Regions from separate parts of the Homo sapiens genome. Here all the other regions are reported to be linked to region 5. The links are microRNA targets in miRTarBase. Many come from high-throughput screens and were not tested one by one. Region 5 holds a microRNA gene; each other region holds the end of a gene's coding sequence.

Region 1 (5,072 bases), not on the chromosome of region 5:
ACCCTATGAATGTAAGGAGTGTGGGAAAACCTTCAGACATCCTTCATCGCTTACTCAACATGTTAGAATTCATACCGGGGAAAAGCCCTATGAATGTAGGGTATGTGAGAAAGCCTTCAGCCAGAGCATTGGACTGATCCAGCATTTGAGAACTCATGTTAGAGAGAAACCTTTTACATGCAAAGACTGTGGAAAAGCGTTTTTCCAGATTAGACACCTTAGGCAACATGAGATTATTCATACTGGTGTGAAACCCTATATTTGTAATGTATGTAGTAAAACCTTCAGCCATAGTACATACCTAACTCAACACCAGAGAACTCATACTGGAGAAAGACCATATAAATGTAAGGAATGTGGGAAAGCCTTTAGCCAGAGAATACATCTTTCTATCCATCAGAGAGTCCATACTGGAGTAAAACCTTATGAATGCAGTCATTGTGGGAAAGCCTTTAGGCATGATTCATCCTTTGCTAAACATCAGAGAATTCATACTGGAGAAAAACCTTATGATTGTAATGAGTGTGGAAAAGCCTTCAGCTGTAGTTCATCCCTTATTAGACACTGCAAAACACATTTAAGAAATACCTTCAGCAATGTTGTGTGAAATATACTAAACATCAAAGAATCTATGTTGGAGCACAAGATTCTAAATCAGTGGTTCCCTGATCCCTCAAAAATCCATTTGTTTTTGGATTTCCAAAAACGAACATTAAAAAAAAATGGTTTGGCACAATGTTCCCAACTCTTAATTTTGCCATATTAAAAACACAACACCTATTATCAGCATTGTTTCAGAAAAGAAAGGACATTTTAATATTTTTAAATGTAGGAACAGTTCCCCCCTCCATTTTTTTTTTTTTTTGTTTTTTGAGATGGAGTCGCTCTGTCACCTGAGCTGGAGTGCAGTGGCGTGATCTCAGCTCACAGCAACCTCCACCTCCCAGGCTCAAGCAATTCTCCTGCCTTAGCCTCCTGAGTAACTGGGATTACAGGTGCCTGCCACCACACCCAGCTAATTTTTGTATTTTTAGTAGAGACAGGGTTTCACCATGGTGGCCAGGCTGGTCTCGAACCATTCAGGTGATCCGCCCATCTCGGCCTCCCAAAGTGCTGGGATTACAGGTGTGAGCCACCGTGCCTGCCCCTCCCCCACCCCCGACCCAGACCCTTTTTTAAAAAACAGTTTCACTCTTGCCCAGGCTGGAGTGCAGTGATGTCATAGTTCACTGCAGCCTCAAACTCCTGGGCTCAAGCAGTCTTCCTGCCTCAGCTTCCCAAGTAGCTGGGCCTACAGATGTGCACCACCATGTCTGGCTAATTTATTATTATTATTATTATTATTATTATTATTATCATTATTATTATTGTAGAGACAGTCTCACTATGTTGCTGGACTGGTCTCAAACTCCTGGCTCCAAGCAGTTCTCCCACCTCAGTCTCCCAGTATGCTGCGATTACAGACATGAGCCACCGTGTCTGGCCAGGAACAGCCTGTTATATTACGTCAGCTTTATGACAGACTCCCACATTTATCTTTACTTTTCCCAGTTCACTATGTGCCAGTGAAATTTCATGGCGTGTTAGTGATCTGTGGATTAACTTTTGAGAAACACTCTTTTAAGTATCCCTTTAATAAATCAGAATAAAATATAGTACAGCCTTTTACTCTAGCCCTTTATATGGCTAGAAGAGGTAGAAATTAAAATGTTGCTTCTCATTTCTAGAAGAAAAAATGTTAAAGGGAGTTTTCTAGCATTGATAGATAACTTACTGTACACGAGATGCTTATTTATATTTTATGGTTTTATATAGAGCAAGAATTGGCAAACTTTCTGTAAAGGGCCAGATAGTAAATACGTTAGGTGTTGTGGGCCATGTGGTCCCTGTCACACCTATTCAACTTCCCCATTTTAGTACAAAACAGCCAGAGACAATATATAAACTACAGTATCTGAACCTTGGCACTACCAATATTTTGGACCGGATAATACTTTGCTATAGGAAGCTGCCCAGTGCATCCTGGGATGTTTAGGGGAATCCTTGGCTTCTACCCACAAGATGCCAGCATTCAATGCTGATAGCTGCCCCTCCCCCAGTTGTGACAGTCAAAAATGTCTCCAGACATGGCCAGGTGTACCTAGAGGCCAAAATTGTCCCTGGTTGAGACCCACTGATGAATGTGTGCAATAGTGGTTCCCATAAACTGCATTTAAAAAACAGCTGTTAGGTTTCGTTTGGCTCAAGGGCTGTCATTTTTCACTCCTCCCCCCATAGAGTATGTAAAATGATTAGAAATGACAACAGACTATCATTTAGTATCAGATTAGTGTGTGTATATGCCATAAATTATTTCCTTAGCAATTCCTTTAGTATTTTTGTTGCAATAATTCTTTAAACGCTACATTTGTAATGCTGTCTTGGAGCCTAGGAATTATTTTTGGAGATATTTATGCAGACTTCCCTCTATAATGATCGGTTTTTTATTATGGTTAATCCATAAATATTTTGAGATGTATCTCTAAAAAACGAGCACTCTTTGAAAACATAACCACAATGCCATTATTATACCTACAAAAATTAACCACAATTCCTTAAAACATAATGATGCCTTTTTGAAGAGAGATATATTGAGACTTCATTCTGGGGAGAAACCTTTCAGATAACTTTATTTACCTTTTCCTTTGCCAAGCATACAACATTAGATTTGAAATATGCTTTGTATCAAGTGGAAGTGTCTCTTAAGATAGCCCCTAGAACAACACATCAAGAGGCCCACCAAAGAGGACCAGAGAAAGGTGACTGAAGGAGCCATACTCAGGCAGGGAAATACGGAGAGAAAGCAGAGGAATTGGCTCCTAATGCTTCACTGTACTTAATGAAATAGATACTCCATCCTTACAGACATAATTGGAAGTAAGTCAAGTTCAACTTCTTTGTTTTATATGGAGATAGAACAGTTTCAATCACGTGAGTATTATAAGTGTGAATTATCTAAAGTAAAGCTATAAATCCAGAATATATACCAGTATCTCTAGAATTTTTCATATTACTACATTTACTTAAAAAAAAAGCTGGCCTCTAACTCTTAAGTCCTGTATGACTGATGGGCAGAAAAAGAGTGAGGTATACACTGTTTCTTAAAATTGTTCTACCATGTTTCTATGGTCTTAGATTTCCCAAGAATTTGAATTTCTCCAATTGCTTATTTCCCTGAAAGACATGACTATGACTTTTCTCTGTAGTTCCTGCCTCAGTGATCTCATACAGTCTTTGGCTTAAAATACCGTCTCTGTTTAACAGCTGCCAGATTCACATCTCCAGCCCAGACCTCTCCCGAACTCCAGCCTTGTTCTAACCTTTGGGCCGTTTCACTAGCTGTTGCAGATGCCCTATACCCTTACCTTCTCATCTTTGCTCAATTGTTGCCTTCTTACTGAAGCCTATCCTGTCCATACTATTTAATACTGCAGCTGTCTACCTTCCAGATCGAGAAATCCCATACCCCTTTCACCTGCTCTATGTTTTTCATATCACCTATCACCCTAGATACTTCACATATTTGTGTTTATTGTTTACTGTTGTTTCCCCTGGCTATAATGTAAGCTCCATGTGGGCAGGGGCCTTTGTTTTTTTCACTGATATATCACAAGTGCCTAAAACAGTGCCTGACACGCAGAAGGGACTCAGTAAATATGTATTGAATGGTTTTGATTTGAACTGAATTGAACTATGTATCCATGATGCAAGTAAAGAAATGTAATCCATATACTTTCCTACCTACATTTTATATGTGAGGAAATATTTTTTGTTTCCTTTTTCTTTTCTGTGCAAGTGGACCAATATTTGAGAATCGTATACCTTTGAGAATCATAGCTGATATACTTTAAGATAAAAGGGTATTTCTGTGTTAATTTGGTTTGGTTGTTTTTGTTTGTTTGTTGAGACAAAGTCTCACTATGTTGCTCAGGCTGGAGTGCAGCGTCATGATCATGGCTCACTGCGGCCTCAACTTTCTGGGCTCAAGCGATCCTCCCACCTCAACCCCCTGAGTAGCTGAGACTACAGGCACATACCACCACACCTGGCTAATTTTTGTATTTTTTGTAGGACGGGGTTTTGCCATGTTTCCCAGGCTGGTCTCAAACTCCTGAGCTCAGGCAATCACCTGCCTCAGCCTCCAAAAGTGCTGGAATTACAAGCATGAGCCACTGTGCCCAGCCTAATTTGTTTAAAATGCATTTAAATGTGGCTGATTAACAACATGAGTTTATCTTTATTTCATGAACCTGAGTGCATAAGCAAACTGGAGGGTATAAAAGACAATAGAGGAGAATATAGAAGCAGACATGAGATGTCAAGTTTTTGGTGGTGAGAAAATAGAAGAGTGGTGACTGACTTAGCAGAGCCTGCAGAAAAGTATACTGGCACAAGGATGTTCCTGGGAAGACAGAGGCCTTGGAGACAGTGGGCATTATGGAAGAAAGAGGGCTGAAAATGGGGATTCATTGAAATTCTAATGTCAGATCCTTAGACCCCCTCACCTACCCATACAGCTGGCTGTTACGCACACATTCCTCCCTCATGCCTTTCTTCATCCCATTACCCTTTCCTCATCCCAAAGGAGACTAGAGGTTTATTCTCTGGTGAAGGACCGGTCTCCCAATGTGCTGGGATTACAGACATGAGCCACCATGTCCGGCCAGGAGCAGCCCTGTATATTATATCAGCTTTATGACAAATTCCCAAATTTGTCCTTACTTTTCTCACTTCACTATGTGCCAGTAAAAATTTCATGTCATGTTAGTGATTTGTGGATTGACTTTGGTGTCCTTGATTCCAGAGTTGTTCTAGAATCAGGGACACCAGACAGTAGAGACTGGGGTAAAAATATGGCTGAAATGGGGACTAATGTAAGGCTGCATATTGAACTGTGGGGCCCTCAGCACTCTTTTCTAATGAAAACCAAGTTTTCATCCCTTCAACCATCTTCCGTCCAACCCCAGCAGGAGATTGGAGGAATCCTCTGGGGAAACTAGTTGGCAGGCTGGGCGTGGTGGCTCATGCCTGTA
Region 2 (5,072 bases), not on the chromosome of region 5:
GGCTGCTCTCAAACTCCTGACCTTGTGATCCACCAGCCTCGGCCTCCCAAAGTGCTGGGATTCATTTTTTCTTTTTAATTTGCTCTGGGCTTAAACTTGTGGCCCAGCACTTTATGATGGTACACAGAGTTAAGAGTGTAGACTCAGACGGTCTTTCTTCTTTCCTTCTCTTCCTTCCTCCCTTCCCTCCCACCTTCCCTTCTCTCCTTCCTTTCTTTCTTCCTCTCTTGCTTCCTCAGGCCTCTTCCAGTTGCTCCAAAGCCCTGTACTTTTTTTTGAGTTACGTCTTATGGGAAGGGCCTGCACTTAGCGAAGAAGTGGTCTCAGAGTTGAGTTACCTTGGCTTCTGGGAGGTGAAACTGTATCCCTATACCCTGAAGCTTTAAGGGGGTGCAATGTAGATGAGACCCCAACATAGATCCTCTTCACAGGCTCAGAGACTCAGGTCCCAGGACTGGACATATCTGCACTCCTGCCCTCTGACTTCAGCCGCTACTTCCAATATGAGGGGTCTCTGACTACACCGCCCTGTGCCCAGGGTGTCATCTGGACTGTGTTTAACCAGACAGTGATGCTGAGTGCTAAGCAGGTGGGCCTGGGGTGTGTGTGGACACAGTGGGTGCGGGGGAAAGAGGATGTAAGATGAGATGAGAAACAGGAGAAGAAAGAAATCAAGGCTGGGCTCTGTGGCTTACGCCTATAATCCCACCACGTTGGGAGGCTGAGGTGGGAGAATGGTTTGAGCCCAGGAGTTCAAGACAAGGCGGGGCAACATAGTGTGACCCCATCTCTACCAAAAAAACCCCAACAAAACCAAAAATAGCCGGGCATGGTGGTATGCGCCTAGTCCCAGCTACTCAAGGAGGCTGAGGTGGGAAGATCGCTTGATTCCAGGAGTTTGAGACTGCAGTGAGCTATGATCCCACCACTGCCTACCATCTTTAGGATACATTTATTTATTTATAAAAGAAATCAAGAGGCTGGATGGGGAATACAGGAGCTGGAGGGTGGAGCCCTGAGGTGCTGGTTGTGAGCTGGCCTGGGACCCTTGTTTCCTGTCATGCCATGAACCCACCCACACTGTCCACTGACCTCCCTAGCTCCACACCCTCTCTGACACCCTGTGGGGACCTGGTGACTCTCGGCTACAGCTGAACTTCCGAGCGACGCAGCCTTTGAATGGGCGAGTGATTGAGGCCTCCTTCCCTGCTGGAGTGGACAGCAGTCCTCGGGCTGCTGAGCCAGGTACAGCTTTGTCTGGTTTCCCCCCAGCCAGTAGTCCCTTATCCTCCCATGTGTGTGCCAGTGTCTGTCATTGGTGGTCACAGCCCGCCTCTCACATCTCCTTTTTCTCTCCAGTCCAGCTGAATTCCTGCCTGGCTGCTGGTGAGTCTGCCCCTCCTCTTGGTCCTGATGCCAGGAGACTCCTCAGCACCATTCAGCCCCAGGGCTGCTCAGGACCGCCTCTGCTCCCTCTCCTTTTCTGCAGAACAGACCCCAACCCCAATATTAGAGAGGCAGATCATGGTGGGGATTCCCCCATTGTCCCCAGAGGCTAATTGATTAGAATGAAGCTTGAGAAATCTCCCAGCATCCCTCTCGCAAAACAATCCCCCCCCTTTTTTTAAAGATAGGGTCTCACTCTGTTGCCCAGGCTGGGGTGTTGTGGCACGATCATAGCTCACTGCAGCCTCGAACTCCTAGGCTCAGGCAATCCTTTCACCTTAGCTTCTCAAAGCACTGGGACTGTAGGCATGAGCCACTGTGCCTGGCCCCAAACGGCCCTTTTACTTGGCTTTTAGGAAGCAAAAACGGTGCTTATCTTACCCCTTCTCGTGTATCCACCCTCATCCCTTGGCTGGCCTCTTCTGGAGACTGAGGCACTAGGGGCTGCCTGAGAACTCGGGGCAGGGGTGGTGGAGTGCACTGAGGCAGGTGTTGAGGAACTCTGCAGACCCCTCTTCCTTCCCAAAGCAGCCCTCTCTGCTCTCCATCGCAGGTGACATCCTAGCCCTGGTTTTTGGCCTCCTTTTTGCTGTCACCAGCGTCGCGTTCCTTGTGCAGATGAGAAGGCAGCACAGGTATTACACTGACCCTTTCTTCAGGCACAAGCTTCCCCCACCCTTGTGGAGTCACTTCATGCAAAGCGCATGCAAATGAGCTGCTCCTGGGCCAGTTTTCTGATTAGCCTTTCCTGTTGTGTACACACAGAAGGGGAACCAAAGGGGGTGTGAGCTACCGCCCAGCAGAGGTAGCCGAGACTGGAGCCTAGAGGCTGGATCTTGGAGAATGTGAGAAGCCAGCCAGAGGCATCTGAGGGGGAGCCGGTAACTGTCCTGTCCTGCTCATTATGCCACTTCCTTTTAACTGCCAAGAAATTTTTTAAAATAAATATTTATAATAAAATATGTGTTAGTCACCTTTGTTCCCCAAATCAGAAGGATGGTATTTGAATTTCCTATTACTGTTATTAGCACGAATTTAGTGGTAATGCATTTATTCTATTACAGTTCGGAGGTCAGCAGTCAGATGTCAGTAGGGCTTGTTCCTCCTTCCACACATCACTCCAATCTCTTGCTCCCATTGTCACAACTCCTACCTCCACATTTGACCTCCTTGTCTCCTCAAGAACCCTTGGGATTACACTGGGCCTAACTAGATAACCAAGGATAATCATCCCATCTCAAAATCTTAATCACCAAGTTTCTTCCCATGTAAGATAAGAACAATGCACAGGATTAGAACATGGACATCTTTGGAGAAGGGGAATTATTCTGCCTACCACAGATGCTATCAGGAAGAGGACAGAAATGACTGATACTGTTGGGATGGCTGTGTGTGTGTGTGTGTTTGTGTGTGTGTGCAGTGTATGTGTTGAGGGGTAGGGCAGACAGCAGCCCTAGGCTTAACATCACACTCAGGCTTTTGGGTTTTCACCCTGCTCAAGGAAAATGTGTCACTTCTTGCAGTTTTTGCTTCAGGACGTGCTGTCTGGCCCAGCTGGCTGCTGGAACAGGGCGGTGCTATGGATGGCAGCTCCTCTGCCTGTAGGGCACAAGGCCCACGATGTCCCCCAGTCCTGTCAGACTCCCTGCTTCACAGAGCCTGTTCACAGCCCCTCCTCAATGAGCCCAGGCCCTCCATCCCAGTTTCCCCTGAAAAGGAAGTCCCAATGCAGAGCAAGGACCCAGGCCCTGCTCATTCAGGGGTCCCTCAAACTCCATTGCCAACACCAAAGAAAGGATTAAAGGGCCTTGAGAGGCTAGTAACATCAGTTTTATTGGGTTGGGGTGGCAACCATAGCCTGGCTGGGGGTGGGGCTGGCCCTCACAGGTTGTTGAGTTCCAGCAGGGTCTGGTCCAAGGTCTGGTGAATCTCGACGTTCTCCTCCTTGGCACTGGCCAAGGTCTCTGTGAGGGGAAGCAGCAGGTGAGGGAGAAGGGAGACACAAGGGGGAGACGTGGGGAGGCAGGGCCAGGGGAAGGTGACATATAGACATGGAGTGGGTCAAGGAAGACACATGCATTCACGGACCTCAGGGCCCCTTGGCAGGGACAAACAGATGGACTGACTAGGATGAGGGGAACAGGACGGACGTGGATGCCTCACTCAAGGCCTTGGGGTCATAGAGGTGGGGTGGGGAGGGCTGAGTCATAAACTACTTTATCCTCTTCTTTAGAAGGTTTAAGGAAGTTGGAGACAGAAGGTAAGACAAAGACTGCGCCAGGAAAGGAAGGGCCAGACAGACAGACTTGAGGTAGAAAACAGACCTGCTGCTGCAGTGAAAGCCCCATGTTGCTGATATCCAACATTTTTCCAAGCTCCATTCCAGACCTTTTGCAACCTTCTTGCCCCTGTCCTGCACCTCACCACCCTACTTCCTTTCCAGTCACTCTGTTTGATCCTGGAACCCCAGCTAAGTGCTCTGAGGTCAGGGATTGGCACCAGAGGCGGTCATGGTTTGATGGGGCCACACGTGCCCACATGCAGTGGTGAATCAGAGAGCGACAGCCAGGGAGTGCCTGTGCAGAGGGGTTTCAGCGTGGGCCATGGTGTTTTGTGGGTGGGCTCAGTGCAGGGGCTGGGGGTGTCAGTAAGTGCCAGGGTGTCAGGAGTGAACCAGTGCTCCGTGGTGGCGATAGAGGTGCTCTCTGGAGGGCAGGAAAACAGCATGGAGACCAAGTTCAGAATTTATTAAGCAGCAAAGGAGGGTGGAAGGGGATAGGTAAAGGATGAAGCCAGTGCCAGAGTGGGTGGTGGGCATGATGGGGGCTCTCCCTAGGCTGCTCCCAGCCTGGCTGTGCAATGTTGGCAATTTCTGCTCCTCCTGCCTGCTCCCCTCCCCATAGAGAGAATGGAAAGGAGAGGAGAGAAGAGAGCTGAGGTGGCCACGCTGGCGTGGGGCTCAGAGGGAGGTGATGTCATTGAGTGCGTTGTCCAGTTCCTCGCTAATGGCCTTGTACTTCATCTTCTGGGCATAGACTTCATCTGGGGGGGGTCCAGGGAGGGGACCAGGTGGGAGTGTGGGAAAGGGAGTGGAGGGAAAGAGGAAAGGAAGGAGAGAGAGCAATGGAAAGAAAAACAGAATCAGAGGTACACAAAGACAGAGTGAGAGAGGGAGGCCAGGGAACAGGCTGGACAGCTGTCAGGAACTCCTTCTCCCCATCTCTACCCCATCTCTTTTCTGTCCTTCTCTGTACCCCAAATTGGCTCTACCCATGGCAGCTCCTGCCTCTCCAGGGAGCTGTGTGTACAATGCTCTCGACAAGCAGGAGTGCTTGCTTAGAGGGGAGAGGGAGGGTGCTGGAGCCAGAAAGGGCAAACCTCCTAAAGCTGGAGGTAAAATTGGAGCTTGCCTGAGAAGGCTGGAAGCGAGAGAAGTGGGAAAGTGAAAGGGTTATCACAGAATAAAAAGGAAAGGCAACTTTAGCCACATCATCATTAACAATAGAAATAGCCACAGACTCACAAATATCTGGATGTTTGCTTTTGTCAAATCTAGCTTAAAATAGTGTTTTCTATTAGTGCTGTCATGCAGACCTAGATGTTCAGTCCAACAGCTCTCTAGTTAA
Region 3 (5,068 bases), not on the chromosome of region 5:
CGTGTGAAAGGCACCCTGACCCCAACCCACACCACCCTGGCTGGCCTTCCCTGTGCCAGACCCCCACACAGTACACTGCTGCTGCATATCTACTTTTTTTTTTTTTTACTAAACTGAACATCCAAGCTTAAAGGGCCAGGCTGTCATCCCTAGGGCTGGAGGCAGCCCTGGCCTCTCCTAGAGAAGCAGATGTCAGGCCAGGCCTCCCCAGCAAAGTCAAGAGACCCAAGTTCTAGGCCCGGCCTTGTCCTGCTCATCCCCTGGGAATCAGGGCCCAGGTTCATGGCCTCCCAGCCTTTGCTGGATCCCCAGGCCACTGTCCCTGCAGAGTGGAGGCCAACGAGCCTTCACACTCTGCTGCGCTCTTTGCCATCAGGAAGGCGGGTGATGCAGCCGCAGATCCTGGAGGTGAACTTCAACCCCGACTGTGAGCGAGCCTGCAGGTACCACCCCACCTTCTTCAACGACGTCTTCAGCACCTTGTTTCTGGACCAGCCCGGTGGCTGCCACGTTACCTGCCTTGTCTAGGCACTCGCTGTCCCCAAAACCTGTGCTTGGGGCAGGATTCCAACCTCAGTTCTCTGAGCTGCTTCTGCAAAGGCCCCCATGTCCCTCCCCACACCGGCCCTGGGCATAGCCTCAGCCCCAGGCCTCTGTCCTGCCGAGCCATCCTCCCGGCGCCACACTCCGGGAGCACAGCATCCTCCTCTCACCTGTGGGTCAGAGCAGGACAGTGATGGTGTCCCCAGGGCTGAGCACCACCCCACGCCCTGCCCTCACCCCTCACCACCATCTGTGCACTGATGAGTCTCCAGTTTAGCCAAGGGCTTTGTTCCTGGCATGGAGAATTTGTTCCTGGCTGCTGTGTTTCCAGGGGGTGCTGGGGGAAGGGTTCCGTGGAGCGAGACAAGGTGTCCTCGGGAGCAGGGTTCCACCGGGAAGCGTTTGGGAGCCCTGTATCACACGGGGCAGGCGGGTTTCTCTTCCGGGGTCTCTGCTCTTATGCATCAGGACGACCCCGGGACGGCTGTGGGGCCCCACACTGCACCCACAGGGCTCTATGCGACAGGGGCCCAGGAACAGCCTGAGGCCACCACCCAGCAAGCCCGCCTTATCACCCATTCCAGCTCACCCAGAACCTTCACCAGCAAACCTCCTGCTGAGGTCCTGGCAGGAGGCCACCGTCTTGTTACCGTTTCCTTTTCGTTTGCTGAGGGTCACAGACCCCAACAGGGAAATCAGTATCTGTCTTCCCAGTGGTTGCCCTGCTCGCCGGGCACTCCACGGGGTCCCGCCCTTGTGTGAGATGGGCCAGGATCCTTCGGCAAGGGGCGCCTGGGGCTGGGGCTGATTGTGGGCGGTGGAGCGCCAGACAGAAAAGGATTCCAATGAGAACTTCAGGTTAAAGTCAGATGCCACCTACCAGGGTCTACAGTCAAAATGTTGGCTTTTTCTTATTTTTTAATGTATGGGAGAAAAATGTAAAATTCCAGTTCTTTTCTAATTGTGTTTCTGAAATTAGGAGTCAGCTGCCAGCGTTTTTGTGTGGCTGCAGTGTGCCTGGGCCCAGCTCACGGGCAGTGGGTGGACCTAACTGCCCAGGCAGGCGAGAGCTACTTCCAGAGCCTTCCAGTGCATGGGAGGGCAGGGCTAGGTGTAGCGGTGTCTCCTCTTTGAAATTAAGAACTATCTTTCTTGTAGCAAAGCTGCACCTGATGATGCTGCCTCTCCTCTCTGTGTTGTCTGGGCCCTTGTTTACAAGCACGCGTTACCCTTCCTGAGGGGAGCCATGCTCTAGCCCCTGGAGGGCCTGTTGCAGGGGCAGGGCGGGCCCGTCGCCTTTGGCAGCTCCTGGAGAGCTGTGGACATGCAGTCCCCCTCAGTTCGTGCTGCAATAAAGGCCATCTTCTCTTATTTCTGCCCTCCTTTCTCTTTGGACCCTGGAGCCACAGGCTCAGCCTGGCCTGTCGCCCCGGCTGTCACTGAAAAGCCCCGGATACCAAGAAGTCACCCACAAAAAGTGGGAGAAGAAATAAGATGGCCTTTATATCGCAGGCCTCCACCCCACAGTCTGATTTCCATGTGCTGGATCTGTTTCCAAGCCGGCCGGGAGCCTCGGTCCTCGAGTGGCCCCACAGCTCTAGTGGCCCTGGAGATAGCAGCCTCCCCACACTTGCCTCCTTGTCCTGGGGTGGGGACGGTGAGAAACCCTGGCTGCTGGGGCGTCTGCAGGGCTCCTCGGGCCACTGCTGAGCAGGTGCATGGACACCGTCAGTGGGTGGAAGCAGCGCCACATGGTGACCAAGGAGGTTAAGACTCAGAAGGCAGGCCAGGCATGGTGGCTCACGCCTATAATCCCAGCATTTTGGGAGGCCGAGGCAGGACAGAGAACAGGTCACACAAAGTCAAGAGATCGAGACAGTCAGACAGCATGATAAAACCCTGTCTCTACTAAAAATACAAAAAAAAACAAACATTAGCCGGGTATGGTGGTGCGCGCCTGTAGTCCCAGCTACTCAGGAGGCTGAGACAGGAGAAACGCTTGAACCCAGGAGGCGGGGGTTGCAGTGAGCCAAGATCACACCACTGCACTCCAGCCTGACGACAGAGTGAGACTCCGTCTCAAAAAAAAAAAAAAAAAAAAAGCGGAAGGCAGAGCGGCCCTGAGGCAGGCTGCCTGTGGACTGTGCTGCTTCTCTCCTTAGCCTCCCTTCCAGGGCAGGTCTCAGGACTGATGCTCACACGGACTCTGTCCAGAAGCTTAACAGCTGGTGCTCTCACTAGTTCCCAGCTCACTTAAAACCTGGTGCCCAGGAGATAGTCCTGCCCAGGGAGCAGCTGGGACAGCCCCCAGAATCAAGACCACATGGTCCAGGCTTTCCATGATTGTAGATGGCTATTCTCTGTCCCCACATGTCCTTGCACCTCTGCTCACTGCAAATGGACACCCCCAAGGAAGGCCAAGAGCCAGGGACTTCATGAGCCGGAAGACCAGCCGGCTCCAGGTGCTGAGGCAGTTGCCGGGAGATGTTTATCCCACTAAATACTTCTTCCTGGTACTCATTTGCACCCTCATCACTGTGTTAAGAAGCCATCCAAAGCCGGAATTGACCAGGCACAGTGGCTCACGCCTGTAATCCCAGCACTGTGGGAGGCTGAGGCGAGCGGATCACTTGAGGTCAGGAGTTGGAGACCAGGCTGCCCAATGTGTTGAAATCCCATCCTACTAAAAATACAAAAATTAGCCAGGCATGGTGGTACACACCTGTAATCCCAGCTACTCTGGAAGCTGAGGCAGGAGAATCACTTGAACCTGGGAGGCAGAGGTTGCAGTGAGCCAAGATGGCGTCACTGCACTCCAGCCTGGGCGATAGAGCAAGACTGTCTCAAAAAAAAATAATAAATAAACCCACTCAGAAAGCATCAAAACCTTAAGTTCCCAGTGGATGACAGCAGCTTAGAAAAGGAGAGAATGCTGTCTGTTACGAGCATTTCCTGGGGAAACGTCGCCAGGCTGTTAAAAGGAAGCCGGCAGACGAAATGCTAAATGCGTTCTCCTCTCGCCCATTTTTCCAAGGCGTTTTGTGGCAGTGCGTGTTTTGTGGCCAGCAGGAGCTATGTGGGACATTTGTTACAGATGAACAACCCCACGAGTTGCGGAGATGGCAGAAGTCTGGGTTGCACTTTCTCCAATCCCTAAGTGTCTGGCACGGACTCAGGTGTCCCTTGACACTTCAAAGGATACCCCTGTGCCCTGCGGGGACGGTGCATGCTCACCGGCATGCTGGAGCAGGAGACAGCCTGGCCTGTAAGTTTCTTGCTAGCAAGGACCTCTCTGCCATCCGCTGCTTGGACTGTCTGCACAGAGCTCTGGAGGAATTCAACTCTGGGCGTCTTGGAGAACTTCAGAAATAAGTTAATAAAAAGGATACACAGAGGCTCCCCAGCTGGCTCCTCTGCACCGGTGAGCATCGGGAAAGCCATGAGGGCTGAGGGCTCAGCTGAGTGCCCGTGGCCGCAGAGTTTTTGGATCCTGCAGAGCGTGATCTGTTGGGCATCAAACTCTGCCAGAGTCAAGGGAGCGGGAGGCTGAGGGTCAGGGTGGAGTAGCGCAGCCCCTGGGCGGGAGCCATCCCTTCTGTCAGAAGAATGCAGTCGACTGTCTACCCATTTCCCTGAGCTGTTCGTTCTTTCGTGTGTGTGTGTGTGTGTGTGTGTGTGTGTGTGTGTGTTGTGCGTGCACCAGAGTGGATGGTATAGACAAGAGTCTCCCTATGTTGCCCAGGCTGGTCTCAAACACCTGGCCTCAAGCAATCCTCCCGCCTCAGCCTCCCAAAGTGCTGGGATTACAGGTGTGAGCCACTGTGTCCAAGCTTTTGTGAACGTCAGGTTGTGTCTGAGCGTACAGGTCGGGAGAGGACACAGGAGCCGGGGGAGAAAAGAGGAAGCAGCAGCCGCGGGCTGTTGAGTGATGACGAGCTGTCTATGAACATTTTGCCAATTTGAATGAACTTAGCTGCCAAAAACAAAAAACAAAAAGCCCGGCAGGTCAGGCCTGGCCGAGGGGAGGGAGCCGCGGGCTGTGTTGCTGAGTGCTGCATGGGTGTGGTGACCGAGAGCAAGACGGAGGAGTGCTGCGTATGGGACTCGGCTCATTTACTCCAAACAGCTGCCTGGAGAGGCCATGGGTCACCCAGTTCGAAGCCGGGGTGAGGGAGTGAGTGGCTGTGACACCTCCAATCCTGGCCGCTCTGGGCCAGCAAGGAGGCCCTGTCTGCTGGAGTCGGGACCTAACCTTTCCTGCCTCTGACTCCCCCTCGAGCCAACTGGGTGTTTGCGGGGCTATCCCTGGTGCAGTGAGGCTGCCATAAGCCTGGGCCCCCGGGGGACAGGGCAGTCAGCACCCCCAACTCTGTCCTGGGTAAAAGCAGCTGAGGGCCACGCACTGGGCAGGACCAGGCGTCGAACAGTGGTTGTGGGCCCGGCCATTAAAGGGCCCGGGCTGAGCATCCCGGAAGCCATGGGAAGCGGACAGGACCCCCTCCCTCTGCTGAAGCCCACGGCCCCA
Region 4 (5,072 bases), not on the chromosome of region 5:
TTTTCCATTGAACCTTTTTCTTTAAGTCCTCTCTTTCCTCTGTTTTCTCAGGGTGCAAAGTGGAAACAATTAAACTTAACGTGGAGGCTGTGAACACGCACCGTGACAAGCCAACTGTAAGTATTTTCCCACGATGAACACACCAGTTTCCCTGCCACCTTGAGTCTCTGAAGCTTTGACATCAAGAGACTGGGGTTTCTTTTATGTACAAAAGGGAAACAGATTCAGAACTTACGTCCAAATGTAGTTTGCTACGTCTGAAACTGATGTTGGAATTATTTTTTTTTTAAATTAGTACCCCTTTCATGAGTCTTAACCTTGAATGTTGGCTCCTGGAAATCCAATTAAATATGGAAAGTGTTTGGCTGAAGTGAAATGCAAATTACTACCCCCCTCCAACCCCAAGTGTCCCTTTAGAAAGCAGAGTCCAGAGGAGCCTATAAGGTGGGGGTCAAGAGGTGTAGGTTTGTTCCTAGGTCTGTCACTGGTAATCTGTGTGGTCTTCAATAAGCCCCTTCCTTTCTTTGGGTCTTTTTCCTGCTTTGGAATGTTATGCTCAAGGAGCTTCTCCCTTTTAGCCCCCTGATGCTAGGAGGCCAGGCCATGGGCCATGCCCTGTGAGGGACCCTGTGTGCAGAGGAGCAGGAGTGAGGGAAGCTGTTGTGGTTACAAGCGCATTATTAACCTGTATGAGTGAGCTTTTGGCTTGGCTTTCATTTGTGTGGTGTCACTCCATTTCCAATCAGAACAACTTCCCCAAGAACCAAACCCCTGTAAGGATGAGAAGGAACAGCTTTACGCCTCTGTCCAGTTCGAATACAATAAGGCGTCCAAGAAATTACAGTGTTGGGAGCCGGCCCCTCAAGCCCCTCAGCCCTCTCCGTGCCCAGGACATGCAAGAAGGGGCCGACTAGCCGAAGACCCAAGTCAGCATTCCGGTGGTGTAACTGTGTGTTTCCCTCCAGCCCTGGCCTCCTGCCCTTGTCACTAATCACCAAGGAGTCATTAACTTCCTCCCTCTATGCCCACCCCTGACACTTCACCATTAATCTTAACACAGAACATGAGGTTATGTGTTTATAGGACAACTTAAGCTGTTCTTCAGTTTGAAACATCTTTTCACCCAGGGGCAAGTTAGCAAATTGAGTCTTTTAGGACAGATTCTCAGATGGGATGATCTGGAGGAGGAGGAAAAAGATACACTCCCTTGGGGCTGAGCATGCCCCACACTCTTGGATCTTCTCTCTGTTCCCTGGTGTCTTCACTAATGTCCTCATGTTGGTGAAGTGTTGGGGGATGGAGGGCGGGTGAGCAGTCGGGGGACAAAAAGTCTATTTTTCCTTCACTTTTGTCTCTTCAATGTGTGTTTTCCTCACACTCCTTACTTGACTGCTTTCTTCCCCCACTTTCATGTCCCCTCTGGATTGTCCAGTGTAATGCATGGCATTGTGGTGTCTGTCTAGGAAGGAAGGGGTGATTGACAAGAGACAAGTCTGGCCCAGTTAATGCTTTCTGCAGTGGGTCTAAATGGATCTGGACTGGAGGAGTCTTTCCTTTCCTTTCTCCCTTCCTCTCCAGCCAGGTCCTGTAAGGGCCAGCCCAGACTACAGGACATCCACAGAATATTCTGGAGCTTGCAAGTAGACATAGGGTGAGAGTTCTTGCCTCCTTTCATGAGAAACAGTTCTAAGTCTTCGATGCCCTGGGAGAATCTGGCTCTGAGCATGTGGGAAATGTCTTGGTTTTTATTTTTAATTTAGAGTCAGGCCTGGGTCTTTTGAGGTCTGCAGAGTGGGGTTTAGGAGAGTAGGGTGGGCTCTAGCTCTTGCAGGGCTCTTAGAGAGCAGTCATGTCTTTTCTCCCATGACTCTCAGGTTCTTTGCCAATCACAGCAACTTTTCCTGCCAAAGCCAGTATCCTCTGGGGCTGTTTAGAAGGGCAGTTAGATTCAGGAGTCACCACTGATGTTTGAGTTGCTCAAGGCAAGAGGCAGAGAAGAGTTCACTAAAACTGCTTATTTTTGAATAATTTCAGCACACTGTCCTTAAGAAGAAAGAAACATCAAAACAAAATAGTTTTTACATGACCATTTTTTTCCCAAATGTGGAAAAGCTTGATGATGAATTTAATCTCTCTCATTGGAGTATTCTTTTGTTCATAAAGAGAAACTATCTCATCTTGATGTCCAGAGAAGTCCTTGGAACCCTGTGGGATCTAGCTCGTAACTGTTTGTATTTCTCTATTCACTTCTGTCATTTCATTTTCTTTGTAGGGTTAAACAGAAAATGTTTAGGGAAGAAATTCTTAGCCCCTTGATGACCATGATGGCTTATTCTCTTTCCCAATTTTGCATGCAAAATGTACGAATATATGTATGTTTTTCTGAGAGGCAAGTTTAGGGTTCTCATGGGATTTTAAAAAGAGATAGGTGACTCCCCACCTTAAAGTTATCTGCTGGTCTTTTAGAGGTAACCAGTGAGAAGGAGTTAGCTATTTTCCAAGGGTGTTTTCATTTGGTAATGGAAGACTTTTTGCTGTGGTTCTCATCCAGGAGTATTCCTTAGAATTGCCTTTAGGATTGTTGAATCATAAACATGCCTGTGTCCACCTTATGCTTAATACTGACTCAGAATCTCTGGGATCTGGGTCTGGACATGCATGTATTTAAGTAGCTTCCCGGATGATTCTGATTCATAGCTCGGGTTAAGAACTCCACCTTAGGAAGTTAGGTGGAAAAATACTGGATAGTAGTTTCTCAGACAAAAGTGTCAGCCTAGGAATTCTGAATTCCTCATAGTCCTGAAAGGACAGTTCTTTGGGTTTGATGTTTGAGCAGATCATAATGTTAAATGATATAACCCCCTGGAAGGCAGGCTGCTGTGTTTTAGAGGGTTATTCTAGGTTCTAGTCCCATCTTTAACCCTTTACATTGCTGAGTGATGTGGAACAAATCACTGAATTAAATAATTGTCTCTAGAGAGCAGCTGGGGATTTTAAGCACCCTGGAGAGAGGTGCAGACCCTGCCAGGATGATAAAGGTTGTCATCACTGGCAACTGACTCCTGACCCCGGGTCCTTTACTCGTATGTCCCAAGTAGGATACCATAGGCAGCTTCTAAAGGCTGCTTACCTAGATTCTTCTCAAAATTGTGTCCAAGATGTTAAGTAACCTGCTATTCCTGTTTAGTGGTTACATAACATGTACTTAGTGTCTTTGTGGAGCTTTGGGCTGGTAGGGGCAGGGATAGGGGAAAGCTAAACAGAAGTAGAAGAAAAGGTCCTTGTCCAGAGGAAGGTTATTTTAAGAGACAGGACATGTAATTTATAACAAATGGACATTTGCAATATAGCAACAGTCTGAGTCTAGAAGTGTTCAACCATCACATCGCTTCTCCTGACTTTTCTGTTGTCCTATGGCTATGAGACTACAGGGGTTGGGGGATGGGGATGCCCCCACCACCACCAGTGTGAGAATGAGATATGGTTGGGGAGGCGTGTTTGGCACTTTTACAAGGTTGCATTGTCCACATTTGCTTGGATGGTGGCATCTGTAGCCCAAATGGGCATTCAGTCTTTTCTTCTGCTGTGAGGTAAGAGTAATTCAGACCTAATGAATGAGAAGAGGGAGCACTTTGATCCACAGACTTTGGATTAACACTGTACCCACTCTTAGCAAAAGGGGACTTCTCTAACAAGCTAGCATTGTGTTAACCTGTCATTAACCCAGCATTAGAGACAGGTCACTGGGATGTTCATTCTGGCTCTCAGCCTGCTGTTATTTCCCCACTCTCACCTGTGCTAGTTCGCTTTCTCCAGAAGAGGAGCTGAGGTGGTCTTATCCTCAGATAGGACATGAGAAATTGGAATTTGGCAAGCAAGGGCTTCAGCATCCTTTAGTTTCTAAAGCAAGATCCCTTCAGAGAAGTCTAGCAGGAAGAAGCCAGGAGAATGTAGAATGGAAAAGAGCTCTTACTCCAAATTTTAGAGAAGTTTCAGCTCTACTTCTCATCTTTTCTCTCCTGGTCTTACTTGAATGCATGTTGGTAATCTGTATACATTACTATGACTGTGTCTATCACAAGTCCTACAAAATAAAAATGGACTTAAAAGTACTCTCTGCTGAGGCTGTAAGTTTTGTTTTGTGAGAAATAGGTAAAGACATTAGCATTTAATCTACTGGAATAAGCTGGTTGCTGTGGCTTATACCTGTAGTCCCAGATACTTGGGAGGCTGAGGCAGGAGAATCACTTGAGACCAGCCTGGGCAATATAGTGAGACCTCACCTCTAAAAAAGTTTTTTATAAATTTACTTGTCTAAAGTGGGGAAAGGGAAATTATTCTGTTTTCTTATTCTTGCTTCAAGACTATGACAGATTTGAAAGAGAATTCTAAAGCAGATTTAGAGAACCTGCTTCTCTTCTTATCTCCTAATCCCTAAATTGTAATTTAGCTCTTATCTGTATTGTTGTTTTGTTTTGGTAAAGGGATGATTTTTACATTGAGTTTTAAAGTAGAATAAGAAAAGCTTCTAAAAACTTGCATTGTGCTAGGGATCTGCCCTATATCTTTGCCTCTGGTGTTTCGTTGTTGTTGTTATTGTTTGTTTGTTTCCAAAGAAGTTGGAGTTAAGGACACAATATATTTGTACCCCTAGACTGAATGGGTGAGTATTCCATATGAGGATCTGGGTAATCCTCTTTGCAACCCACATTTGGTCTTCAGAGACACTGGCATTTTGAAGAAACATATGATATAGCTGTTTGGAAATAAATTCATCTATGTTACTTTTTTTTTCTTTTTTTTTTTTTTTTATGAGCAGGAGATCTTAATTGACAGAAACTCATTGGTGGTTGGAGTGGCCAATGGGCACGGGAAAAAGTATCCAGTAATCAGAAGAATTGTATCTGGGTTATGTAATCTTATGCACATTCCATTGTCTTTGCCAAGCCCAGAAGCCATGTTGTGTTCATTGTTAAGAAATTTGATAGATTTACCCAGCTTTTCTATGTATTTTGACTTATTGAAAATATGTAACAACTGAGTCGGGTTGCAGCACTGGTGGGGTAGAATCG
Region 5 (5,072 bases):
GTCTGGGAGGTTGGGAAGGAGGGAAGGGGGAAGAGAGCTGGCCGTAGACCCGTCTCCGGCCCCCGCCTCCCCCTTTCCTCCTCCGCCCCTTTCCCGCCTCTCCTCCCCCTCCTCAGGTCGCTACCCCAGCCCTGGGCCCCTTCTCAAACCACCCCCACCCCACCCCCAGCTCCAGACCTGGCTCGAGCTGCGAGGGGGAGGGAGAGAGGGAAGGAGAAAAGAGAGAGAGAGAAGGGAGGGAGACCCAAAGAGAGAAGGGGGAGGGGAGGAAAGAGAGAGACCTAAGAGGGAGGGAAGGAGAGAGAGAGGGAGAGAGACAGAGACTGAGAGAGAGCAGGAGACGGAGGTGAGGGATGGAGAGAGGGAAGGGGCGGAGGGAGAGGAAGTGAGGAAAGACATCCGAAAAAAGGGGGTGGAGAAGGGTGAGAAAGAGGAGAGAGACTGAGAGAGGGCCAGAGAGAGAATGAGAGAGACAAAGAGGGGGAAGGGGGAGAAGGGGAGGATGAAAGACAGAAGGTAGAGGAAAAGCAGGAGAAAGAGGGGGAGAGAAGGAAGAAAACAGAAGCGGGGAGAGGAGAGAGGCGATGGGCAGAGAGAGAAGCCAGCGCAGAGCCAGGGAGGGATGTCCTGATGCAGGAGGAGGCTGGGAACCAGGGAAGGTGGAAAGAAAGAGGGAGAGAGAAAAAGGCAGGGCCAGAGAGACCTGGACTGCGAGAAAGGAACCGGAAGGTGCGCCTGGAGCAGGGGCAGCGAGAACCAGACAGTCCAGGAGGAGGGGCTGGGCACGGGAGAGACCCCAGCTGGAGGGGCTCAGAGCCCAGGGGTGGGGAGGGTGGGTGCTGGGTCCCGGGGTCCAGAAGCTGGAGAAGGCTGGGGACACCTCCTGGATTCAAGAGGGAGGACAGAGATGGGGCTGGGCAGACTTTGGGAGCCTCTTCCCCTCTCTGAGGCTCAGCCCCCTCACCTGCCAAATGGGGATGCTGAGGGCACCTCGCTCTCTGGAGTGGGAGGTGTCAGGGAGAGGACTGGTGCTCAGGGCCTGGTATGGGGTCAGCGCTGGGAGATTGTGGCTGTCATAGTTGTAAATGACCCAAAGAAGGGAGGAGAGAGGAAAGAAAGCACCTAGGGAGGCTCTGATGGTTGGCTAGCCCCTGGCCTCCTTAGCCCTGGGCCTGGAGTCTCTGCAGACTGACAGGAGGGTAGGTAGGAAGCAGGTGTGCCCAAAGGGCCAAATTACGAGACAAATGAGGTTCCCTCCCAGCCGGCACCCAGGAAGCCAGGTTTTCTATCAGGCCATGCCTTCCCCAGGAGGCCTGCCTGGCCGGAGGGAGGAGGGGCTGGGGGCAGGGACTCCTGGGTCTCTGGGGAGAAGGAGGCTTTGGATCTGGACTCATGAGTCTGAGGGAGGAAGGGGCTGAGTCCTTGGATTCCAGGAACATTTGGGGAGAAAAGGGCCAGAGGCCTGGATTCCTGGGTCTGTGGTGAGGAAGGGCCTAGACTTCTGGGTTCTTTAGGGAGGAGGGGGATGAGAGCCTTGACTCCAGGGTCCCTGATGAGGAAGGGGCTGAGGGCCTGGACTCCTGGGTTCCTTGGGGAGGAGGGGCCGGGGGCCCGGACTCCTGGGTCCTGGCACCCACCCGTAGAACCGACCTTGCGGGGCCTTCGCCGCACACAAGCTCGTGTCTGTGGGTCCGTGTCGGGGGCTCACCATCGCGGCTGGGGCCTCCCCGGCCCTCCCCCTCATCCCTGGTCCTCCTGGTCCCTGTCTGTCTGTCTGTCGGGTCTGTCCACCTGCCGCGCCCCCCGGGCTGAGGTAGGAGGTTGTATAGTTGAGGAGGACACCCAAGGAGATCACTATACGGCCTCCTAGCTTTCCCCAGGCTGCGCCCTGCACGGGACGGGGCCCGGCGGGGACCCCCAGCCCCACTCAGGGACCCTTAGCCCCACTGGGCTGCCCCAGGGACCCTGGGAGGAAGAGCCGGGCTCTTTTCTGTCCTTGTCCCTGCATCCCCTCCTTCCCCTGAAATCTGTTTTCCTTCCCTGTCTGTCTCCATCTCTGCTGTGTCTCTGTGGCTTCTGTGTCTCTTTCACAGTGGATCCTCTGACTCCCTCTTATTCTGGCTTTCTAGGTCTCTGCCCCTCCCGATATCTCTCTGTGTCTCTATTTCTGTCGTTTTTGGTCTTTCTGTCTCTGGCTCTCAGAATGTCTCTGTGCCTATCTCCATCTCTGACCCCCACCCCAGGGTCTACCGGGCCACCGCACACCATGTTGCCAGTCTCTAGGTCCCTGAGACCCTTTAACCTGTGAGGACATCCAGGGTCACAGGTGAGGTTCTTGGGAGCCTGGCGTCTGGCCCAACCACACACCTGGGGAATTGCTGGCCTGACTTCTGACCCCTGACTCCTCATACCCTTCCTCCAGAGCATGACATTTGACCACCAACTGAAACCTGACCTCTGACCCCAGACCACTGGCCCTTCCCCCGCCCTGTGGTGACTTCATAAAGGTTACTAGCTTCTCCCCTGGCCTTGAGACCCACACGATGGCCCTGCTGGCTCTGGCCAGTGCCGTCCCGTCTGCCCTGCTGGCCCTGGCTGTCTTCAGGGTGCCCGCCTGGGCCTGTCTCCTCTGCTTCACAACCTACTCTGAGCGCCTCCGCATCTGCCAGATGTTTGTTGGGATGCGGAGCCCCAAGCTTGAAGAGTGTGAGGAGGCCTTCACGGCCGCCTTCCAGGGCCTCTCTGACACCGAAATCAGTGAGGAGACCATCCACACTTCATCAGTGTCCTGGGGAAGGTGCAGAGGGAGGGCAGGAGAGGCCCAGAGGGTCAGGCTGAGGGACAGACAGAGAGAAACAGTCAGAGGAGAAAGGCTCAAAGACCATGAGAACAACAGAGACTTAGGGACAGAGAGACACAGACAGGGGAAGACAGCAGGGCAAAGACTCAGAGAGGGGAGGATGGAGAGTCAGAGAGGGGAAGATGGAGACTCAGAGAGGGGGAGGATGGAGACTCAGAGAGAGAGGAAGATGGAGACTCGGAAAGATGGAGACTCAGGAGTATGGAGAGTCAGAGAGGGGAGGATGGACACTCGGGAGGATGGAGAGTCAGGAGGATGGAGACTCATAGAAAGGGGAGGATGGAGAGTCAGGAGAGGTTGGAGACTGGAGAGGGAATAGAGACCCAGAGAGGGGAGGATGGAGACTCAGAGGGTGGAAGATGGAGACTCAAAGAGGATGGAAACCCAGAGAGAGGAGGACAGAGATGAGGCAGAGACTAGGGGAAGCAGGATAGCGACTGGTCGGGGGCAGAGACTCAGGGAGGATAGAGACTTGGGAGGGACTCAGGAAGCATAGCGACTGTGGGGCAAAGAGTCAGAGAGGGGAGGATACAGACTTGGGAGGGCAGAGACTCAGAAACAGAATGTTCGCATTAGGGACATGGTGTTGCGGGGAGCTGCCTCCCCCAGCCCCTGCTCCCTCCCTCACCGCCAGACTATGATGAGAGAAGCCACCTGCATGACACCTTCACCCAGATGACCCATGCCCTGCAGGAGCTGGCTGCTGCCCAGGGTGAGTGTGTGGGGATGGGGAGATGGGAGATGTGGACTTGGAGCCCCTAAGAAATGGGTATGTGGGAGGGCCCAGGGCAGAGGAAGGAGGCCCCCAGAGTTGGGCAGTGATCCGGGAGGGGAAAGCTGGGAAGACATTGAGCTCAGCTACTTGTCCAAACGAAGGCTGAAGGCAGCTCTAAGAGCCAGGGGCTGAAGGTGGTGAGGGGGAAGGGACGCTGCAGAAATTGCCTAGAGCTGGAAGTCCAGATGGGGTCGGGTAGGCATAGGTTCTGCCATGGCTGCATGGCTCACACTCTTACTGGCTATGAAGTTCTGGGTGTGTCACTGCCCCTCTCCTGGCCTCAACTTACCCATCTGTAAAGTGGGACAATCTTCTTGCCTCCTAGGATGGCCATGGAGCTCAGTGCAGGGGTTGGGGCTGCCTGATGAGCCTGATCTTAGGGAAGGCATCTTCCTCTAGGATAGAACACACACACACTCGCACACAGACACGCTCAGAGACATACACTCACACTCACACACACACACAGATTTCTTATAAAGTGATTCCACATTTTTGAGGTGTGAGGCAATTAGAGGGCGGGAAAACAGGAACAGCAGAGTGGATCACTCAGGTGACAGCAGTGAAAAGAGACAAGGTGTGACTGTCCTGGTGAGACAGGCACATGTGACAGCCTTGAGGTGTGTGGCTGTGCGAAGAGACCTCAGGGCTGGGGGCCACGCAATGCCGATGGGCAGCATGGGCGGTAATCATGCCTGATCACCATGGCCATGATCCCCACGAGGTGCCAGACCCTGGAACTGTGGAGGCTCGGAGTTGCAGGAGTTACAGAGCCCTGCGCTATAGAATAAACTGGCTTCCTCTTAGGTCCAGGAGCTCAGGGCTTATTCCCACACCCACAGTCGCTCCTTTTGCTTCCTGCTTTGCCCTCCAAGCGTCCTGTCAACAATCCCGGAAGAGGGAAGGTTCCCATCCACCCAGGGGGCATCCAGGGCCAGCCTGGAGAAGGCCTCAGCTGTGGCTCTCCCCATCTCCACCCTAAAGGGAGACCTGAGGCCCTAAACCTCTCCATGTGGGGGTGTGCAGGATTCCAAGAAATGCCCTTTCTCCCCACATAGGCTGCCTTGTTACAGAAGCTTTTGAAAAGATGAGGAACCTTTGGATCTGGGAATGGAAGCCTTCTGTGGGGCCGCATGGGGGACAAACTTGGAGGGGAGAGAGAAGAGGCTGGGTGAGGGTCCAGGCCAGAGCGGAGGCCCGAGTGGGGGCTGGGGCCGTGAAGGTGGAGAAGGGCCAGGGCCAGAGAGTTAGGTCTGCTGGGCTGTTTTGGGAAGCATAGAGAACAGCATCTGAGACAGGTCCTGCTCTGTGCCTGTTGGGCGGTGGGTCATCACCGAAATAAGGAGCCTGAGAGAAAGAGCCGGGGGCAGATGATAAGCTGGGTTAGAAGGCAGTGACTTTGAGGGGTCCCAGGGACGTTTAGGAGGCAGCTAGATA
Region 6 (5,069 bases), not on the chromosome of region 5:
CCAATTTACTTTCACGGCACTTTTTCCTTCAGGAGAGGCTACTCAGCTATTTTCAAACAAAAAAAAATGTCGTTTGTGTATGTATTTGTATGATTCCATTTATTAGAATTGTTTTCATATAAATGTTGAAAATTTTCAGTTTATGAAATAGGTGTTATTTGATGTAATTCTCATAGCAAAGCATTACACGTAATTTAAAGGAAGAATTAAAAATTATTCCTGCCAAAGTAAACTGTATTTGATTATAAAGAAACAAGTTTTAGAAAGGTTAAGTACAAAAAATAATTGTTTAAGATTCAATAATTTTTGACTGCCACAGACATATACTAACAAACAAGGTAAATCTCTCATGAGGCATTTGAAGAAAACAGTTGGCTATCTAGCTGAGCAAATTCAGAAAGGGGGAATTATGTGAAAATTTAGAAAGTTAATGTGGAATTTAGAAAGTTAATGGTAACTTGTTCTGTAATCGTTTTAATATAATCAATTTCTTCATGTCTTTAGGAACTGGATAATTTCTGTAACCCCATCATTTACAAGCCCAAACCAAAAGCAGAAGTTCCTGAAGACAAACCAAAAGCTAATAGTGAACACAATGGCCCAATGGATGGACAGAGTGGAACTGAAACTAAATCAGATTCAACAAAAGACAGCTCACAGCATACTAAATCCTCTGGAGAGATGGAAGTGGACTAAGTCTTAATTTTACCTTCACATTAATTCAAACCGTGCAAGTAACCACGGGGTCCATCTTTTACATCTGGTACACACAACAGACGCTCAGTTGTTCTTAACCACTTTTGTCATTTGTTTTTTGGAGTAGTTTTGAAAAGTGTTTTATATTGAGTGCACTTCTGTTCATTTCCATTGCTGCTTATATGCAGTGTTAGCCGAATTAGATTTACAAGACAATCTAAGCTTTCCGGATAATTTTATATATCAAACATACAGGATGGATACATAGTTGGCAACAGTCTACCTTATTTAAAGCTTCTACTGGGATAAACCTCAATTCCTTTATTCAGGAAAGGATACTTTATTGCATTATTGTTGCAGAAGCATAGATTTAATTGCATCTTTATTTTGAAAAACAAATGAAAATTGATGGGGTTTAAAGCTACAGAGGCACTGACCTTTTTCTAGTTATTGTATTGCTACAATTTAAATATTAAAACAAATAAGAGCTTTCTCAACAAATTAGTCCATCTCATTGATGTACCACAGAAATCCAAAGCTTTGCTGTCATCACATAAATGAATTAAATCACATGTGAAAGGGAACACACCCAATTTTATGTTAAGGTGAAACCAGCAGTTTGCTTCTTTTATTAGTAATGTGGATTGATGTTTTCTCAGAGTAACTCGTTGTCTTTTCGCTTGAAATTTTTGATCTTGTCCTGAAGACTAGCTGCTGCTAAAACAATGCTAGCCTAAAGATACAGGAGTCTCTGACAAAATGACTTTCATGTTAAGGGGAAATGCTGTTTATCTACTCAGACATGCATCTGTGATGTTCATAGCCTTGTTTCAGTTATAATAGTTGTCTTGTTTTTTTCTTAATTGATTTTGTTAATAATACCTTAACACAGGGTAGGAAGAAGTGGCACAGTGTATTGCATTATATACATTTATCATTGATTTACCTAATGTTACCTTGTAGATTAAACACTATTAAGTGGTAATACTTGAAAAGGAGCACTTATACCATAAGTCTTAGGAAATAATGTTTGTAATAAACTTAACTATGTTACATATCAACAGGCAAAAATATAGAATGTTACATAGTGTTGTGTGATTAAATTATAGTTCCTGCTGTTAACATTACCTTTTGAAACCTTGGCTCCAGTTTTGGTGCTTCTTATACAAATTAAATGCGAAAAGGGACTGTAAACTTAAGATGTATTTTAAGGACTTTATCTGTGCTTCATCACCCAACTTGTTCACATTGTTAATTTCTGTCCAGAGACCTGAAACTGCTTAAGTATGGGAACAGACTGAAATGGTGTTTCAACCTGCAAGAGACAGAAGCATAGACAAGTATATGAGCCCTTATGTCCTTAATGCCAATCAACTAGATTGACCTAGGTTAAAATTTCAAAAGGCTCATTTTCTCCCAAAGCTAAATCTTTATATTAGGAACAATTAAATATTGACTTAAGTTGTAAAAATTGAGAGTACAATATCTTTAGGGATAGTCATTATTTCTCACAACTAGTTCTCTACGAGAGATTTTGTTTCTACAATGTAGTCAGCACTTAATGGAGAGTATGGAGTAGTGCATTTTGCAGGGATTTTTATTCCGTCTTTTGAGGGGAAGAATCTCTTTTTTGCATTAAAAAATCATATAAACTTAATATATTTTTAAACTCTCCTAGTCTTTAAACTTTCTCTTAATTCTCTTAAAATGAAATAGGTATATCCAATAGGTGATGAAATACATTTTTTACAAACATAGATGCTTTTTATTTGTATGTTGAATGTACAGATTCATTTCAAGAAAAGCATGAAGATAATGAAAGCAAATATGTAACAATACAAGTAGGGACTTTAGAGCTTCTATTTGGGTTAAAACATCCACTCACTTGGTTAGGAGCTATGCCTCAGAAACTTCCTGGGAGTAAATATGGGAACAACTTTTCTATTAATACATCTAAATTTTCTAGTATATCCTGACATTTTCCATTCCTGCTCTGAAGTCACTTTTAGTTTTGTGTTTTAGTCAGATAGTACCACTAATTTTTGTAATTATATAACACTTCATTTAATAACTTATATACATCCAAATATATATACTTTTTCTACCCAATTATTCAACTTAAAAGATTTCAAAAACGATTTAGCCTTATAATGTATTTATTTATTTAATTCATTAATGAAAGAGAGTGCTCTCTTTAATGCAGCTTTGGGTAGACAGTCTAATTCAGTCCAATTTTAATCTGCATTAAAATATGCAATGCTAGACAAAGATTTTCAAAATAAAAAGCTATTATTTCAGAAATTATTTTAAAAGATGCATAGTAAAACAGTGTTTTCCTATGGTAAGCAAATAAGAATGAAGTTTGTAGGGAATATTTGGAATGATTAATATAAATTAGTATACTTTGGCTCTGTGGAAAAGTGTAAATTGTGGTTTTAGAAACCAACTCTTGATAGTTGTACTGTGATTATAAAAAACAATTGTTAAATAATATAATGGAAGTTTGTGATAATTCCTTAGCAGTAATGTAAAATTATTAAGTTTTGGCCAGGCGCTGTGGCTCACGCCTGTAATCCTAGCACTTTGGGAGGCCAAGGCAGGCAGATCACCTGAGGTCAGGAGTTCAAGACCAGCCTGGCCAACATGGTGAAACCCTGTCTCTACTAAAAATACAAAAAAGTAGCCGGGCGTGGTGGCATGTCCCTGTAATCTCAGCTACCCGGGAGGCTCAGGCAGGAGAATCGCTGGAACCCAGGAGGCAGAGGCTGCCGTTAGCTGAGATCGTGCTCCTGCACTCCAGCCTGGGCAACAGAACAAGACTCCGTCTCAAAAAAAAAACAAAAATTCTTCCAAAAAACTAGAAAGAGCACAGCAAAGAATTTGGCTATTGAAATAACAGATAAACTTGATTTTGAAAAGGATAACAAGGCTGGGCACAGTGACTCACACCTGTAATCCTAGCACTTTGAGAGGCTAAGAAGGGAGGATCACTTGAACCCAGGAGTTCAAGACCAGCCTGAGAAACATAGTGAGACCCTGTCTCTAAAAAAATAAAAACTTAGCAAGGCATGGTGGTGCACACCTGTAGTCCTAGCTACTCAGGAGGCTGAGGTGGAGGATCACTTAAGCCTGAGAGGTCAAGGTTGCAATGAGCCATAATCATACCACTGCACTCCAGCCTGGGCAACAGAGTGAGGCCCTGTCTCAAACACATAAAAGGCAGTGGCCCACGCCTGTAATCCCAGCACTTTGGGAGGCCAAGGCGGGCAGATCACGAGGTCAGGAGATCAAGACCATCCTGGCTAACACGGTGAAACCCCGTCTCTACTAAAAATACAAAAAATTAGCTGGGCATGGTGGCGGGCGCCGGTAGTCCCAGCTACTCAGGAGGCTGAGGCAGGAGAATGGTGTGAACCCAGGAGGCGGAGGTTGCAGTGAGCCGAGATCGCGCCACTGCACTCCAGCCTGGGCAACAGAGCAAGACTCCATCTCAAAAACAAAACAAAACAAAAACATAAAAGGAAAACAAGACATTTACTAAGAAGAGCTAAAGGAAAGAATTAAAGGTTTCTTATGCTTTTTTGGGGGGGGGTGTCAATTTTTAGTATATTAAGAGCTAAAAGAAGTAAAGGTTTCTTAGACTTTTTTTGGGAGGGAGGCGTCAATTTTTAGTATATTTGTGATTAATTCCATGATAGAAGTCTTTAAAGAGAATTTTGGGGCTCAATAATTTAACATAATGTCAGTGTTAAAGCACTTAATCCAAATTAGCCCATCTTTAACTGTTTTGAAAAATCTATATTTATTAAAGGTAGTAGACATTTGAATATAGTAATCAAATTAACTGATTTTGTTTTCACCCTAAATACATACAACCATTCCTCCACTTTCATAAATTTGACAAATAATAAGCCTCTCCCATTAGGATTTTCTGTTTTATAGTAAATAGTTGGTATTTGGTAGTCCACAATTAAAGTCATTGCATTAATTTTACAAATTATAGATTTAGAAATGATTCTTAAGTTATTGGTAAAATATAACTTTCTCAGTTTTTAAAAGTTTACAAAATTTTTTTTTTTGTTTTGAGACAGAGTATGGCTTTGTTACCCAGGCTGGATTGCAATGGGGTGATCTAGGCTCACTGCAGCCTCCACCACCTGAGTTCAAGCGATTTTTCTGCCTCAACCTCTCCTGAGTAGCTGGGACTACAGGTGCATGACACCACACCCAGCTAATTTTTGTATTTTTATAGAGATGGAGTTTTGCCATGTTGGCCAGCCTGGTCTTGAACTCTTGAACTCCTGACCTCAGGTAATCCACCCACCTCAGACTCCCAAAGTGCTGGGATTACAGGCGTGAGCCACCATACCCGG

What was found. The annotated mature microRNA hsa-miR-125a-3p reads ACAGGUGAGGUUCUUGGGAGCC and lies in region 5 at 2,323-2,344, shown strand. An mRNA with a match to its seed (bases 2 to 7 or 8) in the 3' UTR can be bound and repressed. Matches are read on the target gene's strand: a 7mer-m8 pairs with bases 2 to 8, a 7mer-A1 pairs with bases 2 to 7 and ends in A, and an 8mer does both.
Region 1: the mRNA of ZFP69B is a reported target of hsa-miR-125a-3p. The part of its 3' UTR that is shown has no 7-base or 8-base seed match.
Region 2: miRTarBase lists TPM2 as a target of hsa-miR-125a-3p. The part of its 3' UTR that is shown has no 7-base or 8-base seed match.
Region 3: miRTarBase lists TTLL12 as a target of hsa-miR-125a-3p. Seed matches in the 3' UTR shown: 7mer-m8 at 710-716 and 7mer-A1 at 1,710-1,716.
Region 4: miRTarBase lists PFKFB2 as a target of hsa-miR-125a-3p. Seed matches in the 3' UTR shown: 7mer-m8 at 3,790-3,796.
Region 6: miRTarBase lists HSPA4L as a target of hsa-miR-125a-3p. Seed matches in the 3' UTR shown: 8mer at 3,302-3,309 and 7mer-A1 at 4,851-4,857.

The regions. Positions count from the first base shown.
Region 1 is chr1:40,462,983-40,468,054 of GRCh38, forward strand. It overlaps ZFP69B (ZFP69 zinc finger protein B), which reads left to right. Exons shown (of 5, transcript NM_023070.3): 5 at 1-733. The coding sequence ends at 607. Among named protein-coding and RNA genes, the nearest start is that of ZFP69, 12 kb to the right of the region's middle.
Region 2 is chr9:35,678,754-35,683,825 of GRCh38, forward strand. It overlaps TPM2 (tropomyosin 2), which reads right to left. Exons shown (of 9, transcript NM_003289.4): 9 at 4,179-4,488. The coding sequence ends at 4,406. CA9 (carbonic anhydrase 9) reads left to right here. Exons shown (of 11, transcript NM_001216.3): 7 at 432-589; 8 at 1,101-1,245; 9 at 1,360-1,386; 10 at 2,000-2,081; 11 at 2,212-2,406. The coding sequence ends at 2,272. Among named protein-coding and RNA genes, the nearest start is that of CA9, 7.4 kb to the left of the region's middle.
Region 3 is chr22:43,163,468-43,168,535 of GRCh38, reverse strand. It overlaps TTLL12 (tubulin tyrosine ligase like 12), which reads left to right. Exons shown (of 14, transcript NM_015140.4): 14 at 377-1,914. The coding sequence ends at 528. Among named protein-coding and RNA genes, the nearest start is that of TSPO, 14 kb to the right of the region's middle. RefSeq lists enhancers at 1-328, 4,484-4,986, 4,987-5,068.
Region 4 is chr1:207,071,458-207,076,529 of GRCh38, forward strand. It overlaps PFKFB2 (6-phosphofructo-2-kinase/fructose-2,6-biphosphatase 2), which reads left to right. Exons shown (of 15, transcript NM_006212.2): 14 at 52-116; 15 at 747-5,072. The coding sequence ends at 914. Among named protein-coding and RNA genes, the nearest start is that of C4BPB, 15 kb to the right of the region's middle.
Region 5 is chr19:51,690,984-51,696,055 of GRCh38, forward strand. It overlaps MIR125A (microRNA 125a), which reads left to right and starts at 2,271; the gene lies at 2,271-2,356. It overlaps SPACA6 (sperm acrosome associated 6), which reads left to right and starts at 2,347. Exons shown (of 9, transcript NM_001316972.2): 1 at 2,347-2,757; 2 at 3,495-3,572. The coding sequence starts at 2,544. SPACA6-AS1 (SPACA6 antisense RNA 1) reads right to left here and starts at 2,473. Exons shown (of 2, transcript NR_108100.1): 1 at 1,651-2,473. MIR99B (microRNA 99b) reads left to right here and starts at 1,629; the gene lies at 1,629-1,698. It also overlaps MIRLET7E. RefSeq lists an enhancer at 1-622.
Region 6 is chr4:127,832,179-127,837,247 of GRCh38, forward strand. It overlaps HSPA4L (heat shock protein family A (Hsp70) member 4 like), which reads left to right. Exons shown (of 19, transcript NM_014278.4): 19 at 505-5,069. The coding sequence ends at 696. Among named protein-coding and RNA genes, the nearest start is that of PLK4, 46 kb to the right of the region's middle.